Homo sapiens: one gene and its partners. The gene in region 1 interacts genetically with each later gene. Each region holds a gene or a part of one and is shown in the gene's direction. Other genes may lie near its edges.

What was found.
Region 2: changes in NDUFA9 (region 1) and DDX18 together harm fitness more than expected from each alone (negative genetic interaction), as found in Homo sapiens cells (one large-scale study listed by BioGRID).
Region 3: changes in NDUFA9 (region 1) and FH together harm fitness less than expected from each alone (positive genetic interaction), as found in Homo sapiens cells (one large-scale study listed by BioGRID).

The regions. Positions count from the first base shown.
Region 1 is NC_000012.12:4,659,114-4,662,613, forward strand, and holds part of NDUFA9 (NADH dehydrogenase [ubiquinone] 1 alpha subcomplex subunit 9, mitochondrial precursor), read left to right. Parts: coding exon 1-64; intron 65-3,419; coding exon 3,420-3,500. UniProt on the Homo sapiens protein: Accessory subunit of the mitochondrial membrane respiratory chain NADH dehydrogenase (Complex I), that is believed not to be involved in catalysis. Required for proper complex I assembly.
Region 2 is NC_000002.12:117,821,191-117,824,690, forward strand, and holds part of DDX18 (ATP-dependent RNA helicase DDX18), read left to right. Parts: coding exon 1-106; intron 107-459; coding exon 460-560; intron 561-671; coding exon 672-871; intron 872-956; coding exon 957-1,071; intron 1,072-3,378; coding exon 3,379-3,500. UniProt on the Homo sapiens protein: ATP-dependent RNA helicase that plays a role in the regulation of R-loop homeostasis in both endogenous R-loop-prone regions and at sites of DNA damage.
Region 3 is NC_000001.11:241,506,256-241,509,755, reverse strand, and holds part of FH (fumarate hydratase, mitochondrial), read left to right. Parts: intron 1-970; coding exon 971-1,153; intron 1,154-3,500. UniProt on the Homo sapiens protein: Catalyzes the reversible stereospecific interconversion of fumarate to L-malate. Experiments in other species have demonstrated that specific isoforms of this protein act in defined pathways and favor one direction over the other.

The DNA.
Region 1 (3,500 bases):
ATTCATTCATGTTTCACATCTGAATGCGAATATTAAAAGCTCTTCTAGATATTTGAGAAATAAGGTAAGTAACAAATTGATCTGGGAAGTGGTTCACAGAGCCAGAGTTTCTTGGGCCATTTGAAACATGATTTCAGTGAGAAGGGTTTATCACAGACATATGTAGAATTAAAAGGTTTTCTGATTCCCTGCATCCAGAACTAGGGGTGTGTGTGATGTTTTGACGTTTTGATTGATTGCCTTCTGTTTGCAGGGAACTGTGCTATGGGGCTTCGGAGTTGGCTAGACCATGTTACTGTTGGCATTCAGATACTTAAAGTTTCTTTGGGGCATCATTGAATTATACAGAAACCATCACAGATTTCTGCCAAAGGAATCATACCTGTGTCATCTACCATGGTTAAAGGACCATCTTTCTTTCTCACCCCTTGCACTGCAGTGGTTTTGTGCCACTCTTAAAGGGGCAATGTGAAGGCTCAGAATGACAGGGATTAATATTTGCCAGGGAAGATGCCTATTCACACAGTGCTTATGCTCCTTTTACTCCCAGAAATGCCATACCTAGAGACTGACCACTGTAGTTTGGAGTCAGTCTGTAGCCTAAGTGAAACGTGTTCATTATCAGGGACGCAGAAGGGATATCAGTGTCTGGCCGTGCGCTTAACATTTGGATTCTGCCATATGGAAGCCTGTTTGGAGTCATACTGATAAGGACAAGAGAGTTCCTTGATAATGGTTCCAAGTTTTTGACTCACCACATTAGTTTACTGGATAAACTATTCATTAAGCACCTACTGTGTGTCACATATTGTGTTAAGCACTGTGGCTACGGTAGTAAATAGAGAGAAAATAAGAGAGAGAATGCTTGTGCCTGCCTCTGCCCAAACATTCATAAAATCATCAGAATTTCATGACTGGAAGGGAATGGGAGGTGTCAATGGTGAGGAAGAGAGAAGAGTCAAAGATGTCCAGCCCTCTGGCTGAAGCCACTGGGTAGATGATAGTACTGTTGAATAAGATGGGAAATGCTTGGGAGGGACTAGGCTGTAGGGCAGTGAGTCTTAGCCTTAGTTGCACATTAAAACCACTGAGGGAGCTTTTAAAAATTCTGATGCCTAGGCTGCGCTCCAGACCAATTAAAACAATTTCTGGGGTTGCAACTTCAGCACCAGTATTTTTTAACTCTGTCTAGGTAATTCTGAGTGCAGCAAAGATTGAGGAGCACTATTTTACTTGAGAGAATGGAAGATGATTGAGTTTTGGACTCACGTTTCAGGTGCATTTCAGATGTGTGTCAATCTTCCAAGTAACTGGTATATAGGGTTTCTGATCCTGGAGGTCAGAAGAGAGGTCTGGGTTGGAGACAGAAATGTGGGAGTTACCAGCATTTGTTGTTAATTTAAGTGATGAGAGAGGATAAGATGGCTGAAGATTGAGAAGGTAGTTTCAGATTGGGCCCAGAACATACCAATGGTTAGTAATCTGGTAGAGAAGGAGGCACCTGCAGAAACCCAAACCAATCAAACAGAAAGACTAAGCAGGACATGATAAGGCGGAAGGGAAACCAGGAGAGTACAGTGCTAGGGAAGCCATGGCCAGACAGTCTCACAGGAGGAAGTGAATACTTATGAATGCCATTGAGAAGTCAAGCAAATGTTAACTGTAAAGTCTCCTTGGATCTACTGACATGGAGGTCATTGGTGATCTTATCAAGAATAGATTGAGTGCAGTGGTTGGAGCAGAATCCAGAATGCGGGTGCGTGAAGAGTGAGTTGGAACTGAGGAAGTGGGAATGGTAAGGGTAGGTACATTTTCAGGTAGCTTGACTGGCAAGAGGAAGATGAAAGACTGAGAGGATAGAAGCTGGAGGGGGATGTGGAGTTGGTATGTTTTTTTTTAAGGTAGAGGATCTACATTGTTTACATGCTGGTAGGGAGATGCTGGTAAAAAGAGTGAGGCTGAGGATGTGGAAGAGAGAGTAAATTGGACAGGTTCCTGAAAAAGTGAAAGGACATGAGCTCTAAAGCATTGAAAGTGGCACTGTTCCTCCCATCAGGTAAGAGAGGAGGAGAAAATTGTGCTTTATATACCGGGGTTTGTAGATTTAGTGGTGAGAACTTGAGGTGGTTTTTCCTCTACTGTCTTACATTTTCTCTTTTATTAGAAGGCAGAGTCATTTACTGGAAGGAAGAGAAAAGAAAGGGATGTCTGAAATTTGAATACAGTAGAAAATGTTTCAAATTGTCTCATGGGAAAGTAAGTTAATTAGAGGAAAACACGGTTTTTGGGAAATGTTGAGGGCCTGGTTAAAATTGGAGGCATGAATTTATAGTGGTACCAATTCATGGTTTTTATTGATTTATTTTCCTGCCAGCTGCTCAAGACAGTGGGAGTGCATGGCCCAAGGGAGGCCAATGGAGTTCTTCTAGGATTAGAATTTTGCCTGGTGGCTAGAGTAAAGGACAAAGGGACAAGGTAGTTTACAATATTGGCAAGAGAGTGATGAGAAGATGGTCTATGGAACCTAATCTGGAATTCAGAGGGAAGGACAGGAACAGTCGGAAGAGTTGATACAGGGGAAGCAGAATCAGTGCACTAGAGTTCTTGAGAAGGTTGAGAAACAGGTATCCCAGGAGCAGATGAACAAAGAACAAGCAGGCTGGAAATTGTAGGAAATGGACATCCAAGAGCAGGATGTCTTCATTTAATACCTCAGAAGAAGAGCAATTCCAGATGTTGATACAGTAGGTGGTGTAACCAAGTTAAGAGTGGTAGAGGTGGAAGGAAGAGGAGGTCGTTGGAGTTGAGCAGCTCAAGAACCTGAGAAGTCCAAGCCCACTTGGACATCATGTCACCTCCAGTGGTGGTGGAAGTAGAAAGGAAGACTGAATTAGGTGCTGATATCTTCATCGAACAAGAAGACTTGCCTAGGAGGCTAGTAGATGATAACAAGTAAGGATGGTACAGCAATTGAGATTAGGAGGATTAGTGACTCTATCCCCAACCTCCTTTGGATATGTAGGTACTGGTGACACTTCCATTATTGCAGCCTGCTGCCACCATACTGTCCTTTTTCTAACAGGCTGCTAGATGGTTGACACAAACCAGAGAATCTGTAAATAGAAGGAAAAATGGAGGCTGAAGAAATTCTACTTTGATTTTTCTCCTTCTTCAATGTAAGCTTCCCTTAAAATAAAAAAATTGGAAGAGACCCAACCCAATCTGTAAGGTGCAGGACATTTTTGTGGATTATATTTTTTAAAAGTTCTGTGTAACTGAGTTTTATGAATTACATGATTACCTTTATCTGGAGGAAAATATCGCCTTTGAAATACAAGTCATGTCTTAATAGTGGAAAGAATGGATGCTTTATTCACTTGTCTCTAAACTCAAAACAGGTTTGTTTGGTTATTGTTTAGGCTGTTGGAGAGAAAGTAGTGAGAGATGCATTTCCGGAAGCCATTATCGTAAAGCCGTCGGACATCTTTGGAAGAGAGGAT
Region 2 (3,500 bases), on another chromosome or scaffold:
TATGTAATCTTGTCAATGAAAACACTCTGAAGGCAATAAAAGAAATGGGTTTTACAAACATGACTGAAATTCAGCATAAAAGTATCAGACCACTTCTGGAAGGCAGGTATGATTAACATTGAAGCTTAGATATTGGCATCTATTTTTAGAACTAGTAGATGATAAAGAACATACCAGTATATTCTGTTGATTTTGTACTATATGTTGGGTCATGTATCCAGCATACATTAAAGGCTTTAAGTTAATTACTGATGTTTGAAGGAAAGTGTTCGAAAGGTGTTCTGCTTCTGTTGTAGCACAGTTCTGACTTATGATTTCAGTATATAACCCAGGTGATCAATTTCAGCACTGTAGACGTTTCTTGTTCATGTTCTAGCCGTAGTGCCTAAGGTGTGTGTATGTAGTACGTCGTAAATGAGTAGGCTAAATGTCTTTCTCCTTTCCCTTTTTAATATTTAGGGATCTTCTAGCAGCTGCAAAAACAGGCAGTGGTAAAACCCTGGCTTTTCTCATCCCTGCAGTTGAACTCATTGTTAAGTTAAGGTTCATGCCCAGGAATGGTAAGCGTTCATCTGCTTGTTTCTGCCATTATTTCACTAGAGGTTTATTGTAGCTGTTACGGACTCAGTGGTGACAGCCACATTTAGACTTCTACCATATATCATTTTTAGGAACAGGAGTCCTTATTCTCTCACCTACTAGAGAACTAGCCATGCAAACCTTTGGTGTTCTTAAGGAGCTGATGACTCACCACGTGCATACCTATGGCTTGATAATGGGTGGCAGTAACAGATCTGCTGAAGCACAGAAACTTGGTAATGGGATCAACATCATTGTGGCCACACCAGGCCGTCTGCTGGACCATATGCAGGTAAGAGATGTAGTGCTTGTCTCATTGTCTTGTATGAAACATAAACTGACAACTAATGGTTGTTCTTTGTCCTTTGTTTTGTTAGAATACCCCAGGATTTATGTATAAAAACCTGCAGTGTCTGGTTATTGATGAAGCTGATCGTATCTTGGATGTGGGGTTTGAAGAGGAATTAAAGCAAATTATTAAACTTTTGCCAAGTAAGTAGGTAGCATCTGCATTTGGTTTGCAAAGTATCTGTTGGAGGTAGATAAGAGTTGTTCCTATAGAAAAACTGTACTAATGCCAGAACTTTACCATAGCCAAGTGAGGTAGTTGTGCCAATTAACCCGAAAGGTAATTTGGAATACAAGCATCAAATGTATTATAACTTGATATAATAGTTTTGCTGTTTTAGAAGTTATAAGGCACGTTAAGCAGTCTTCACATAGGTCCTGTCCTCCACCTCTTGCCCATTCTTACCTCATCTAACATCCCCCAAGAAGCCGCAGATTTTTTGCCTTACTTGTACATACCTTGGTTATAGTACTTGCAACATTATGAACTGGTTATAACTAAGACCATGGTTTCCTTCATTATATAATTTATTTTTAAAAGCTTTGTCAAAGTATAATTATATCTACCCATTTATAATGTACAATTTGATGTTCTTTGATTTGTTTACCACTGTGACATCATCGCTGCAATCAAGAAAATGAACATGTCCATCACAGTCAAAGGTTTCCTCCTGCCCCTTTTCAATTTCTCCCTCCCACCCCTCCTTACACGTATACCTTGTCCCCAGGTGAGTATTGATCTGTTTTCTGCTGCTAGATTAGGTTGCATTTTCTGGAAATAAAGTTGCTGTGAACAGTCATCTACAACTCTTTGTAGAGGCATATATCTCCTTTTCTCTTAAGTAAACCTAGGAGTGTCCTAGTTGGTATATGTTTAGTGTATGTTTAACTTTTTAAAAAACTGCCAGATGTTTTCCAAAGCGGCTGTACCATTTAACATTCCTATGAGCAGTGTATGAAAGTTCCAGTTCCTCCTATTAAGTCTTGACCATCAGGTAATGTTAGCCCCAAGTTTGTTCTCTTTTAAAGTTGTGGTATTCTTGTCCTTTGCTTTTCTATATAAATTTTAGAATTGGTTTGTCAGTTTCTCCCCCTTCCCTCCAAAAAAGTCTCAGATCTTGACTGAGATTTTATTGAATAGAGATTATTGGAGGAAGACAGTATTGAGTCATGTAACCCATAATAAGGTATATCTCCATGTATTCGATATTTTCTCTATCATATTTAGGGGGGTTCGGGATACAGGTTTATTCACATCTTTTGTCAGATTTATCTCTGAGTGTTTCATTAAAATTTCAAGTTCCAATTGCTCGTTGCTTTAATATATACATATATACACACACACATATACACACATATATATGCACACACAGTTGAATTTTATATTGATCTTGTATCTAGCAAGACAGTTAATCCTGTACCGAATGATTATTCAGTATGACTTTCCAGATGACTGTAGCCTTTTGGATTTTCTATATAGGCAATCATGTGCAGATAAAGACAGTTTCACCTCTTTATTTAATTTTTTTTTCCTGCCTGATTGCCCTGGCCAGAACCTCCAGTATGGTGCTGAATAGAAGTGGTGAGAGCAGACATCCTTATCTTGGTTCTGATCTTAGGGGAAAGCATTCAGTCTTTTACCATTAACTACATATGAAGTTAGCTGCAGGTTTTATATAGATGCCTTTTATCAGATTGAGGAAGATCCCTTCTGTTCCTAGTTTGCTGAGGATTTTTAATCAGAAATAGATGGTCAAATGTTTTTTTTCTGTCTGCTGAAATAATCATGTTTTTTCTTTAGTTAACATAGTGAATTGTATTGGTTGATTTTTCAAATGTTGAACCAACCTGCATTTCTAGAATAAACCTGATCCATTTCTAGAATAAACATGAGCCATTATCCTTTTTATATATTGCTGAATTCACTTTACTAAAATTCTATTTCAAATTTTGTATATGTGCTCACGAATTGTATTGGTCCATAGTTTTCTTGTCATGTCATGTCAGGTTTTTGTATAGTGTAATGACTGACTTCGAAGAATGAGTTGACATGTAAGCCCTCTTTTTAATTTATTGGAGAGTTTGTGAATAATTGATGTTTTTTTCTTAAATGTTCAGTAGAATTCACCAATGGAATCCATTTGGGCCTGGAATTTTCTTTACATGAAGGTTATAACTAAAATTTCTTTAGTAGATATAAGGCTATTTAAAGTTTTCCTATTTTCTTCAGTTGTTTGTCTTCAAAGGAGTTTGTCCATTTCATCTAAGTCCTCAAATTTATAGACCTAGTGTTTCATGATATACCCTTTTTACCTTTTGTAATATTTGTAGATTCTGTAGAAACATCATATCTCCCATTTCTGATATCTCTACCTAGAATATTTGTAGTTGTGAGGCAATTGTAAAGATTCCCTAAAAGATTGGGGTTATTTTTATATGTATCTGTTTCAGCACGTAGACAGACTATGCTCTTTTCTGCCACCCAAACTCGAAAAGTTGAAGACCTGGCAAGGATTTCTCTGAAAAAGGAGCCATTGTATGTTGGCGTTGATGATGATAAAGCGAATGCAACA
Region 3 (3,500 bases), on another chromosome or scaffold:
CACCCAGGCTGGAGTGCAGTAGAGTGAGCATAGCTCACTGCAGCCTGGAAATGCTGAGCTCCAGGGATCCTCATGCCTTAGCTTCCTGAGCAAGTGGGACCATAGGCATGCACCGCCATGCCTGGCTAACTTTAAAAATGTTTTCAGAGACAGGGTATTGCTCTGTGTTGCCCAGGCTGGTCTTAAACTCCTGGCCTCAATTGATCCTCCTGCCTCAGCCTCTGAAAGTGCTGAGGTTATAGGCATGAGCCACTGCACCCAGCTTGATATTATGTTTTAAAAGTACAGGGTCAACAGTTGAGGAAAGAGCACTGAGTATATACTACCTGGCTAGGTCTCAGGTTTGCCAGTTGCTAAATATTTTGGCATTTATACAGTCTCTTTGAGGGCTTGGCTTTCCTATTTTTAAAGTGGTAATCTACCTCACAGAATTTTTCTAAACTTAATAAAGAGCTGTTTATGAAAGACTGTATGCACTGTATAATTGTAAGATATTCAATTATAAGATTTTATAAGAATATATAATTCAATAATTGATGTAATTTGATATAATTATAAGATATTCAACTACATTGAAGATACTACTGCTGTCTTCAAGTGCAGTTGTTAACTATACTTCTCTGTATTTTGCTGTCATTTATTAGCAGGCAGATATAATACGTAATACATAATATAATACATAATATATTATATAATACATAATATAATATAATACGTAATACATATATAATACATAATACATTCAGTATACTTAATGTGTATAATACAGTTCTGAGTATGTGTTAGAAACCAGGATGCTGCTTATTTGATTCTATAATAACTCACCTATGACATGCCACACATACATGTAACTGAGCTGGGTTTTGAGTAGTTAGTTGGAGAGTTTTTTAATTGAGAAGTTTAATTCAGAAGTTTGTTTTTGTTGCCTCTGATTTAACATTTTATATTTCTTTTGAAAAATTTCCAACAGAGCTCAAATGATACTTTTCCCACAGCAATGCACATTGCTGCTGCAATAGAAGTTCATGAAGTACTGTTACCAGGACTACAGAAGTTACATGATGCTCTTGATGCAAAATCCAAAGAGTTTGCACAGATCATCAAGATTGGACGTACTCATACTCAGGATGCTGTTCCACTTACTCTTGGGCAGGTATAGGAGTTTGACTAATTTGATTCAATTTAGAGCTTGGTACAAATGGCCAATGTGTCATCCTTGAAATCTGACTAGCTTAAAAGGCCAAATTTGTAACCGGAAACTTCAGTGACAGAGGTTGTTCTGTTCAACCAATCAGTAATTTTCATTGACATCCACTTAGAAGAAAAGCAGAGTATACTGGCTATAAGTCAGATTCAGTCAGACTGCTCGGGTTCAAATCTTAGCTTTGCTGTGTACAAGCTATGGGACCATAGGAAAGTCATTTAGCCTTTCTGTGCCTCAGTTTTCTGAGCTACAAAATGAGGAAAATAATTTCCCTTTCATAGGATAGTTGTGAAGCTCTAGTAAGTTGATTTATGTAGAGTGCTTAGAAGCATGCCTGGCACACAGTAAGTACCCATTCATGTTAGCTACCATCATCACCACCGTCATCGCTGTCATCTCCATCAGTATCATCATGGTTTTTCTTTTGTCTTTCTTACCTAAATTAGTAGGTTATTTAAAATTTAATCTCAAAGTGATTAAATAAGGTAGATCTTTTTAAGATGGATCTGGCCGCATGTGAAGGAGATACTACTCTCTTCTCCAAGATATTAGAAAGTATTTTCATGTTTCTTTTTCAATGCCTTAAGGAATATCTAATAGTATACATTGTGAAGGAAATGTAAGGAAATACAGGGAATGACTTTTGTCTTAGTAAACTCACACTCCAATTGGGGTAGCTTAATTTCCTTATGGAAGGAATGAGGAAAACTTGAAATGAGTAATTGAAAAACAAATGATGGGACTAAATTGAACTCACTGGATTGAGTTGCTTCTTAAGGCTGTGTCTCATTTCTCTTTGCATCATTAGTACTTAGGACCATGCATAATTTCTAAGGAGGAACAGTATGTATGTTTTGAAACTTTTGAATATTTCTCAAGTTTCTAATTTTAACCTTTTTTTGGTGTTGAAAACTACAATACTAAATACCATTTGGGCCATGACTCAGCCTCCTGTGTAAAATCATCATTCTTCCTGTTAAGACAGAAAATTACATTTTTCTGTTTGACTTTATCAGAAGCATTTATACTTGCTTTTATTGGGATTGTCTTTTGAGTTCGTGCATTGTTCCCTGTCAAAGTGTATTTTATAAGTGAATCTATCTAGTGTGTTTGTGTGTGTGTGTATACATACAGTCATGTGTTGCTTAGCAATGGGGGTATGTTCTGAAAAATGCATCCTTAGGCAATTTCATAGTTATGTGAACATCACAGAGTATACTCACACAAACCTAGATGGTATAGCCTTCTATACACCTAGGCTATATGGCATAGCCTTTTCCTCCTAGGCTACAAATCTGTGCAGCATGTTACTGCATTGGATACAATAGGCAATCGTAACACAATGGTAAGTATTTGTGTATCTAAACATATCTAAATGTAGAAAAGGTACAGTAAAAATACGGTTTTATAATCTTAGGGTCCCACTGTTTATGTGATCTTTCGTTGGCTGAAACATCATTATGTGGTGCGTGACTGTATATGAGTGATGTTATATCAGATGCATCAGGTCTACCTATAATGAGTTATATCTTTTGAAATGTTTTCTTTAGAACAGTATGGCATCCTGTCACTTATGGTTTTTTAGTGTTTTCAGGCAGGAAAAAAGGATAGATTTAGTGTAACCATGTATCTTGGTTTGTCCAGTTAACTCCCAGTGTATGCCTTTTGTTTCTGCATGACTATTAATAGAGCCCTTTCTGTGTTCAAAACATAAATTCTGTGGTTGCTTTAATTAAGGCATGTCAAAATTTGGAACCAGTGTTGACATTGGCACATTGATGCTATGATCTGACTCTACCGTTACCTCCTATTCTTTTTGGAAGGTCCTTCAATGCAAACTGTTACCTTCCTGTGCTATTCAGTGAGTCATTAGCTTCCCAAGTCTCTGTAGAATGTCTTCATATTTCCTGGTAGGTTTATACACTGAAATTGTATGGAGAATATTTCTATGTTTGCATTTTTTTGGGGGAGATGAGTTACTATTTTTTCTTACACCAAAGTTGTCTGAGGCATCCCAAAAAATAAGAAATCACTTCAGTTTCTTTAGTAGACTGCAAGTAAACCAATAATTTAGTGTAGTAAAGTTGTTCTTTTTAAAGTGTATTTCCTGTGCTGTTTTTCTTTGCTTCCTATTAAAAGACTAGATTATAATAAATAGGCTGCATGTTATCAGTGGCATTGTCGTACCTTATGGTTCTATAAACCCTCATCCTTCCCTATACTTTGCTCATCATAAGATTTGAAGTAGTATAAATAAAACTTGATTAGCTTGTAATTTAGTATTCTGAAAGGTATT